3 separate regions of the Homo sapiens genome follow, and all the other regions are linked to region 1. The links come from fine-mapping of genetic effects on gene expression. A gene starts in region 1. Each other region holds a variant in brackets. All regions are shown on one strand. Distances are from middle to middle. Region 1 holds the start of VAMP3 (vesicle associated membrane protein 3). Region 2 overlaps PER3 (period circadian regulator 3). Region 3 overlaps PER3 (period circadian regulator 3).

The links. PIP is the estimated chance that this variant, and not a neighbour inherited with it, causes the effect. A credible set is the group of variants that fine-mapping cannot tell apart.
Region 2: its variant is the best candidate, but not a certain one, in a credible set for the expression of VAMP3 in whole blood (TOPMed, PIP 0.58).
Region 3: its variant is the best candidate, but not a certain one, in a credible set for the expression of VAMP3 in whole blood (INTERVAL, PIP 0.67).

Annotation. Positions count from the first base shown.
Region 1 is chr1:7,769,540-7,772,301 of GRCh38, reverse strand. VAMP3 (vesicle associated membrane protein 3) reads right to left here and starts at 1,006. Exons shown (of 5, transcript NM_004781.4): 1 at 917-1,006. The coding sequence starts at 918. It overlaps CAMTA1 (calmodulin binding transcription activator 1), which reads right to left. Exons shown (of 23, transcript NM_015215.4): 23 at 2,596-2,762. RefSeq lists silencers at 643-872, 837-1,079 and enhancers at 1,313-1,362, 1,106-1,802.
Region 2 is chr1:7,842,342-7,845,103 of GRCh38, reverse strand. It overlaps PER3 (period circadian regulator 3), which reads right to left. Exons shown (of 22, transcript NM_001377275.1): 22 at 1-2,432. The coding sequence ends at 2,349. Among named protein-coding and RNA genes, the nearest start is that of UTS2, 9.3 kb to the left of the region's middle. The variant C/T (reference allele first, on the strand shown) is at 1,326.
Region 3 is chr1:7,811,332-7,814,093 of GRCh38, reverse strand. The region is part of intron 13 of PER3 (period circadian regulator 3); the gene reads right to left. LOC124903833 (a long non-coding RNA gene) reads left to right here. Exons shown (of 2, transcript XR_007065450.1): 2 at 2,490-2,762. Among named protein-coding and RNA genes, the nearest start is that of PER3, 28 kb to the right of the region's middle. RefSeq lists a silencer at 2,619-2,762. The variant C/T (reference allele first, on the strand shown) is at 1,701.

The sequences.
Region 1 (2,762 bases):
CACCGTCCTCACGGAGTTTAGTATCTGGTAGATAAGTAAGGACCATGCCGTGGCGCTAGACTCTTTCCATGCTTTTCCTCCTTTAACCCTCATAACTCTCTGAGGGGAATATTACTCCTATTTTACAAATGAGTAAAGTGAGGTTTAGAGAGTCAACACAGCTGGCTGCAGGACAGCTTGTTTTTAGATCAGGTCCTGTGTACCTTGGCTCTAGATCTTAACCACTGTGATCTATTGGCACAGCAGCCTCAGCAGGAACATTCGAGGGGGGTCCCCAGCTCCTGGAAGAAACCCGGGGCTTCCTCCGACGGTGAGCAATGAGCAGAATGGAGGTGGAAGAGGGAGTCCTTGTGATTCTTAACCATTAGCATTCTCTGAGTCTTACCACTGGAAGCAGGGGTTTGCAACGTGCTTTCGCTTAAGAGAGCGAAGGCCCACGGTTAAGTGATCTTTCCAGTGCAGATGCCCCTAGCTAGGCAAGGAGCTCTTCGGCCCACAGGGGCTCAGGACAGGGCCGAGGTCCTTTCTTTCGCAACTTCTGGGGCCCAGCGCAGCACCGGGCCGAGAGCGGGCGCTCCCGAACCAGGGCTGTCGTCCCCATTCCTCTCAGGGACGTCGGGGACTAGAAAGGGAAGGGGCGAGGAGCGGGCTGCGGGCGGGCAGCTCACTTCCTCCGGGAAGCGTCTCGCCGCCCCGCCCTTGCCCCTTCCGCGTCCGCCCGATGGCCGCGGGACCCGCCCGGCCCGTCTGCAGCCCGCGACCCAAGGGCCACCGCCCACCCCCAGGCCTCGGGATCCCCGCGCAGCCCCGGCCTGCGTCCGAGTGGCGGCCGGCGGCAACTGGGCAGTATGGCGGTCCCAGCGCGAGCTGCCGCCTGCGGGGCCCGAAGCCGCCCGCGTCGCGTAGCGTCACTCACATTTTGGCAGCTGCGGCGGCGGCAGCGGCGACGAGAGAGGGTCAGCAGAGAAGCGAAGTTGGGACCGGAGGCCAGGGAGATGGGTGGGACGGCGCGGCGCGGGGCAAAGACGTCACTAGGCGGAGCCGGGGGAGTGGGCGGGGCGAAGAGGGGGCGCGCCGGAAGTGGGCGGGGGCGTCGTGGGTGGGTGCGTCCAGGGCGGGGTCAGAGCGAGACGTCCCCTCCCCGGACGAGGTCACTTGGGAACTTGAGGGCCACAGGGGTCCCAGGGCGGTCCGGGCTCTGAAACGCAGAACGCAGGTCAATACAGCTCCCTGTCCGCACCGCCGTCCGCGCTGGCGCTTGGGGACGTGGTCTGTAAACGTGGTGCATTAGCCACTGGCGAGGGACTGCGTGGATAAGTGAGGGTGGGGGCAATTCATGTTATTCTGGGCTCGGGACCATTTCTAACAGTATTAGAGACAGATGACTGGCTTCTGCTGAGTGTTCCAGAGTAACCTAGTGATCCTGAGGGCACCATGTTTCTCTAAAGTAGTTGAAATAGGAAGTCCATTTCGGGTATTTGTCACATGGTGTTGGGTGAGGTTCCCGCTCATGTTTTCATCGGTGACACAAATATTTGTCACTGCAGATCATATTATAATCTGCTTACGAGAGCCTTGGCATCAAGGCTGTAGTTCCTTTATTTCTGTATTTTCAGGCCCTAGCACAGAATAGGTCCTCAGGTTTTGGTCGAAGGGAGGGAAGCACAAATCTGAACGCAGTGAGTTACCTTGTATATATTTGTTACTGAAATATTCCTACCAACATAGTTACCTACACCAAAAAATAAAACACTAATAGGTCATTGGTGGGTCTCTTAGATGAGAAGTGAAAAATACAGTACTTAAATACTATGCTGTTTTTTCCAACTCTAAATAGAATACTTTGAAAAGGGAAACGTTAGTATATATCGAATAAACGAGTGTCACAAAGGCGGTGGGATTTGAGCTGGGTACTAGTGGAAAAGAACTTTCCAAGTAAGGGTTGGGCAAACACCATGAACAAAGACAGCAGTGAAAATGGACGCAGTGTGCACAGACCACCTAGAGGGTGCAGGTTGGGTACAAGTGAAAAGAAGACTGAATAAAGAGGATAAACAAACAAGAAAAATGTCATTTAATTGTAGTGGGCCCTGGAAACCATTGACTTACGGACGTGGGAGATCCATGATGCAAAATTTCTCTGGCAGTAGTGGCCAGATGGATTAGATGGAAGAGGGAGCACTAGGGAGATAAGGAGAGGCTCTGCAGTGAACGGGAAGGGAGCGGCGATGACACAATACTCAGAAAGGACGACGTTCGTAATCTGCTGGAAAATGCCTTTTAGAAGACTTTAGAGGATTGTAACTGAAAAGGTGAATTAAATTAATGTCTTTATCTTTCAAATAATTGCACTGCCTTACACAAATGATTGACATGTTGAGAGGTGCCTGGAAAGATAGGGGAAAAGCTCTCTGAATGGTGGCTGGAAGACATTTTTTCTTTCATGGACCTAGCTGAAACAATGTAACATTCAATGTCAAAACATTACATCTGGATCAGAAGGAAATCCTTGACATTATTACATATGTTTTGAAACATGTGCCCATCACCTTAGATTTCACTACCCGGTCATATTAAAGCAAAACACACACGTAGTATGGGGAAATTTTCTTCATTTTTAATTTACAGCAGAAAGAATATAAAGCATTCAGAAAACATTTTCCATATTTTAAGGGCAATTCAAAACATTTTGCATGGTTTCCAGCAGCTGAGTTCTTCAACAGATCCATTGATTCAATGATGCTTTACATGCACAATTACAA
Region 2 (2,762 bases), 73 kb before region 1:
TAAAAACAAATTCAGAGTTAATTACAAATTCAGTTGAAACAAAATTTCAGTTTGGATTAAATTTACACTGTGAATTACAATGAAGTGTCACTCAATTGCAAAATGATTTCCATTCATACAGCATTTTGTTTTTCATAAATTTTGACCTCTGACCAAAGAAAACACAGCTTTTTGGGTAACATTCATGAAAACATTGAAGCCTATAATATAAATTTTTATTACCACTTTCAATAGTCATTAATATAAAAAGTTAACAAATTTAAACAACAAAGTTTAAGCTGGGGAGAGCCCCCTCGGGGGGCATCGGTCAAGCTGCTGAACCCCCTGCTCACCGCCAGCAGCAGGTGCAACCTGGGAGTGCGTGAATGCGTCCACCCACAGGAGGAGCGCTCCTCATGCTCTGACAGTTCTGCGACAAGCACCAGTTTCAAATCAAACCTAGTATAACAAGTACTCCATAAAACGTGTGCTAAGGCAAAGAAATAAGCACATTTGGATAATACAAATATCCAGAAACAATGGAAAAGAAAGGCTTCTATTAGAGAACAGAAGGCTTAGCATATATGAGTGCGCAATGATCCTGATAGCTACGGATACTGTTTTTATTTACAGTGGCAAAAACTTTATTACTACAGAAGGTCACTGACAGACAATCTACTGGCTGGTTAATTGTTTCAAATTTGATTCTCTATCAAGCAAAAATATCACACAACCTGATCAACACACACACAAACGCTTCAGAAATCACTTAACTATCAAGATGGAGCAGACTATGAGAGCTATTTATAAAACACGAATATTTGCATGGAACTGCTTAATATCAGAAAATTCCAAGAACTGTCAAAGGCAGCATTTGAAAATAGTTCTGACACCTTAAGATGGAATTACCATCCAGAAAGCCACTACTTTGAAAGGAGATCTGAGCTATGAGGATGGTCATCATGGATGAAAAGGTCGATTTTCCTAATCATTATCAGGACGCATTTACAAAAAGCTGTAAAACTTCAAAGGAGAAAAGTATTTTCCTTAAAAAACCATAAAAAACCAAAAACAAAAAAAGGAAAAAAAAATAAATTAGTTTGTTGCAAGTTATATAAAGACAACAGGTTACTGTAACCCTCATTTTCTTCTATTTGTTTTTTCTGATCTGCAGGGGTGTGAATTTCATCTATCATTCCAAGTTTAAGAAGGAATCAGGGACTTCTCTAAAAAGCACCAGAGAGTGAGCTGATTTATCAAGTAAACAATCACACTCACTTCTTAAAAGACACAACTACAAACGCCATAGAAAGCGGTGACTGATGGAGCCTGCAGGACCCTGTGGG[C/T]GAGGACAACTGGGCTCGCCTGGACGTTTTCTCTTTTGCAGTCCCCACAACACTGCCCTGTTCAAGGGCAAACAAAAGGCAGTGCCAGTCAGACCTGTGGTAGGGCTGGAGCGACCTCTTTTGTATAAATTGATTGGAAAGAAAGAGTTAACTGTTTTGGTAAGAATGAAAATTTAAACACAGAAGTATGTAAGAATGATACTAGCTTTTACATTACTTGTAAAACATTTTACAATCATTATTTTAAAAACAAAAATACTCAAAAGGGCAACAGCACTGGGTAAGAAGCTCTTTCATTTTAATATTACACATGCAAATGCTAACTGAAACTTACAAGAATAGGCCCATGGTAAGCGGATCGATTTTTAAGATAAGACTTTCAGAATTTCACTGGAAGGTGGGAAATCAATAGGAAAGGGATCTACAAGGATGAAGGCCAAAACTCAACCCCCAAAACCTGGTTATCCCAGATATGCTAATGGACAGTATGTGCTAATGTGTTGTGAGAAAACCGGAATGTTTCATCTTAATTATGGAGGGGAACGCCAGGTTGAATGAAGCCTGTATGAACGTACTACATTCATGGAAACCATTATGAAAAGTACACAACCTGTAGGTGGCATTTCTTCAAGCACTCTAAGGGGAAAATGACTTATGTAACAGAACAAAATAAATGAGGCTAAGGTTTGGGGCTCATTCTAGCTATACTTCTAATTATAATTTACTCTGGGTGACATCTGAAATAAAGATACACATACCTCTTTAGAGGCCATCCAATCTCTTTAGAAGACAATTCAACTACAAAAAGAGCCTAACTGGCCATTTTAATATATCAGGAACAAAGAGAAGTAAGATTCTGTATACAATGTCTGCTTCAAAAAGATTACGTGTATTAAAAAATCAAGAAGAAAAAATCTTAACATTCAATGATAACTTCATGGTCATTTAAAAGTCCAGGACTTAAAAAGGTCTGTCTGTGTAACACGTCTTGGAAAGGGTATGAAGGTTCATCCTCACAGTCACTCAACAGCTGTCTTCTACCAGAACCTGACCACAGGATGTGGCCGCACCATCAGCTGAATCTTCATTTTCACAAGTGACACAGGCCTCCAAAAAAGAACAAAGCAGGCGAGTTACTTGATGTCAATGTCACCTAAAGAGTTTTAAAACAGTAAAAGGCTGGTCACATGTTTCTAAATCCCCAACTTATTCATGTCTGAAAATATTTCATTATAGTTCATTCTTTATTATTATTATAACTATTTTTATTTTTTTTTTTGAGACAGAGTCTTGCGGTGTCACCCAGGCTGGAATGCAGTGGTGCGATCTCAGCTCACTGCAACCTCCGCCTCCCAGGTTCAAGCGATTCTCTTGCCTCAGCCTCCCAAGTAGCTGGGACCACAGGTGCCCACCACCGCGCCCAGCTAATTTTTGTTT
Region 3 (2,762 bases), 42 kb before region 1:
TGATTCTTTTCCAGGCTGTGTTGAGTGCTATCAAATGCGTTCCTCATCTCTGGCATTGATGTTACAGATGTTACATTTCCATTTGAGGGTTTCTTTCATGCCCATCTCTACGCTGTGATTACCCACCCGGTCCTGCATGGTGCCCACTTTGTCCACTAGCCTTTAATACATCATTCATAATTATTTTACTTTCCCTGTCAGATAGTTCCAACTTCTGTGTCCTCTCTGAGTCTTGTTCTGATGATGGTTTTGTCTCTTGGGAGGTTTCTTTTTTCCCTTCTTGCCCATCATATGCTACATAATTTCTTGTTGAGAACTGTGTAACTTGTGTAGGACACAGAGACTGGGCATGCCTTTCCTTCTTTTAGACCTCTGAATTAATCTATTTTTTAGGCCAGGTTTGAGTATTGTAATGGTTCTACAGCATGTACAACAGCTTTCAAATTCCTCTAGTTATACTTCTTGCCTCAGCTGGTGGCTGGTTTGGTGGGTAATTTTTTTGTTTTTTCTCAGTATCTGCTCCACTTTCAGCTTTTGGTCTTTCCTTGGCATTGTGCCTTCGAGAGGGTCTGTCTTTTGCAAGTTACTTGACTCAGGCTGTCGGTGCACTGGAATCCAGTGCTGCATCTTGCTCCTCCCTGCAAATATGTTTCTCTCCTTAGATTTTAGGCCTGCTGGCTGCTCTGTAACCTCAGCACTCTGAAGTCAAGAAAGGTCTTGAACTTGCCTTTCATCTAGATTTTTCTGTTGTTAAGTCTGGGGTGATGCTGTTTCTGGCTCTCTACATCCCTGAGCAGAAACTGGAAGCAATCTCACTCTGAACCTGTTCAACTTAAGGGTCCTCTTCTCTCACTCAGACATTCCATCACCCTAGACATGGACACTTACTTTTCCCAGATTTCCTCAATGATGTCTCTTGTAGTTGGCCTCTGTACATGTAGCTGAAGGGGCTTTACATATCCCTGTTATTCCTTGCCCTCCCATATTAACTCATACTAACTTTTAAAATCTCTCTTTAAAGCATTATTTGCTCTTAGGTTGTAAGAAAGATAAATATAAATTTTAAACTTAAGTTCCTATAACACATGTAAACAATGATCATGCTTAACTAAGCATTTTCCTTTTCATTGGTATACATCTCTAGTCAATTTCTAACATTTAAATTATAACATTTTTAAGTTGCATCCTCATGTCTCTCAAGCAAAGAGTATAAAGGTTTCTGTAGCTCTTTAAACTTGTAGGTCTCCAAATGTTAATAAAATCAAGATCTCCCAGAAACATTGGTTCTCCAAAGCTGTGCCAAATGGCAAGAGATCTTCCTTCTTCTCCAAAGTCACATCCTGTGTGTGCTATTAGAGCCAAATGTAAGAATCTATCTAAGGAGTGGGAACATTTCAGTTTCTAAAGTAGCTGCATAAGCACACGGAGTTACCTGCAGCTTCAATTTTTTTTTTTTTTTTTTTTTTTTTGAGACGGAGTCTTGCTCTGTTGCCCAGGCTGGAGTGCAGTGGCGCGATCTCGGCTCACTGCAAGCTCCACCTCCCGGATTCACGCCATTCTCCTGCCTCAGCCTCCCAGGTAGCTGGGACTAGAGGCGCCCACCACCACGCCCGGCTAATTTTTGTATTTTTAGTAGAGACGGGGTTTCACCATGTTAGCCAGGATGGTCTCGATCTCCTGACCTCGTGATCTGCCCACCT[C/T]GGGCTCCCAAAGTGCTGGGATTACAGGCATGAGCCACTGCACCCGGCCACCTGCAGCTTCAATTTTATAAAAAGTGAATGATGGAATATTGCCATCTACTTAAAGATATAGCCTTCAAAAAAAAATAGTACCGATGGCATTACAAGATCCATGGTCGATGATAAGAAACTGAATAATGCAGCAAGTGAGAAGGGAAGCTATACTGAGATGAGGACAGAGGTCAGTGTGTGAAACTGTGATACTACCATGAGATCCTAGGCCCAGGCAGCTGTGAGCAGGACTAGCAGGACCAGACAATGAGAAAAACATTTAGACACTTTAGCTTTAAAAACCTCCTAAAAGAATTCTCTCTGCTAGGACATGGAATAATAATCTATATAGTAAAAATTGTATTTAAGATAAATTCTTTTGCAGAGGAGAAATGTAGGGGTTTCAAGGGACAATAAAAAAAGCAGCTGTGATTCCTATCTTGTGCCCTTACATGTAACAGCAGAAGAAACCAATGGAATGCTCAACTTCCTATCGAGGTGAAAAGAAAAAAAATGAAAGAACAGGACTTGCTCTGTCTGGGGAGTCCAATGGGCTCTACTATGGTTTGAATGTGTGTGTCCCCCATGACTCCTATGTTGCAACTTAAAACTCAATGTGACAGTGAACAGCCACGGCCTTTAGGAAGTGACAAAGTCATGAGGACTCTGTTCTCATGAATGGGATTTGCAACCTTTCAAAAGGGCTAGAAGGAACTAGCTAAGTCTCTTTCTGCCTTTCTGTCCCTTGTGCCATGTGAGGACACAGCGTTTGTCCCCTTCAAGGAAGTGATGTTCTCTGAGAAGCACAGACCTGGCCCTCGCTAGACACTGAACCTGCCGGTGCCCTGATCTTGGACTTCCTCGCCTCCAAAACTGTAAGAAATAGGTTTCTGTTCTTTATCCATTATCTAGTCACAGGTATTTTGTTACAGCAGTACAAACTAAGAAAGTTCCCAGTGATGTCACCTCTGGGAGCAGCAGTTTGACTTTCTGTGGTGTAAATCATGTCAAGTCCTGAAGCATATAGCTGTT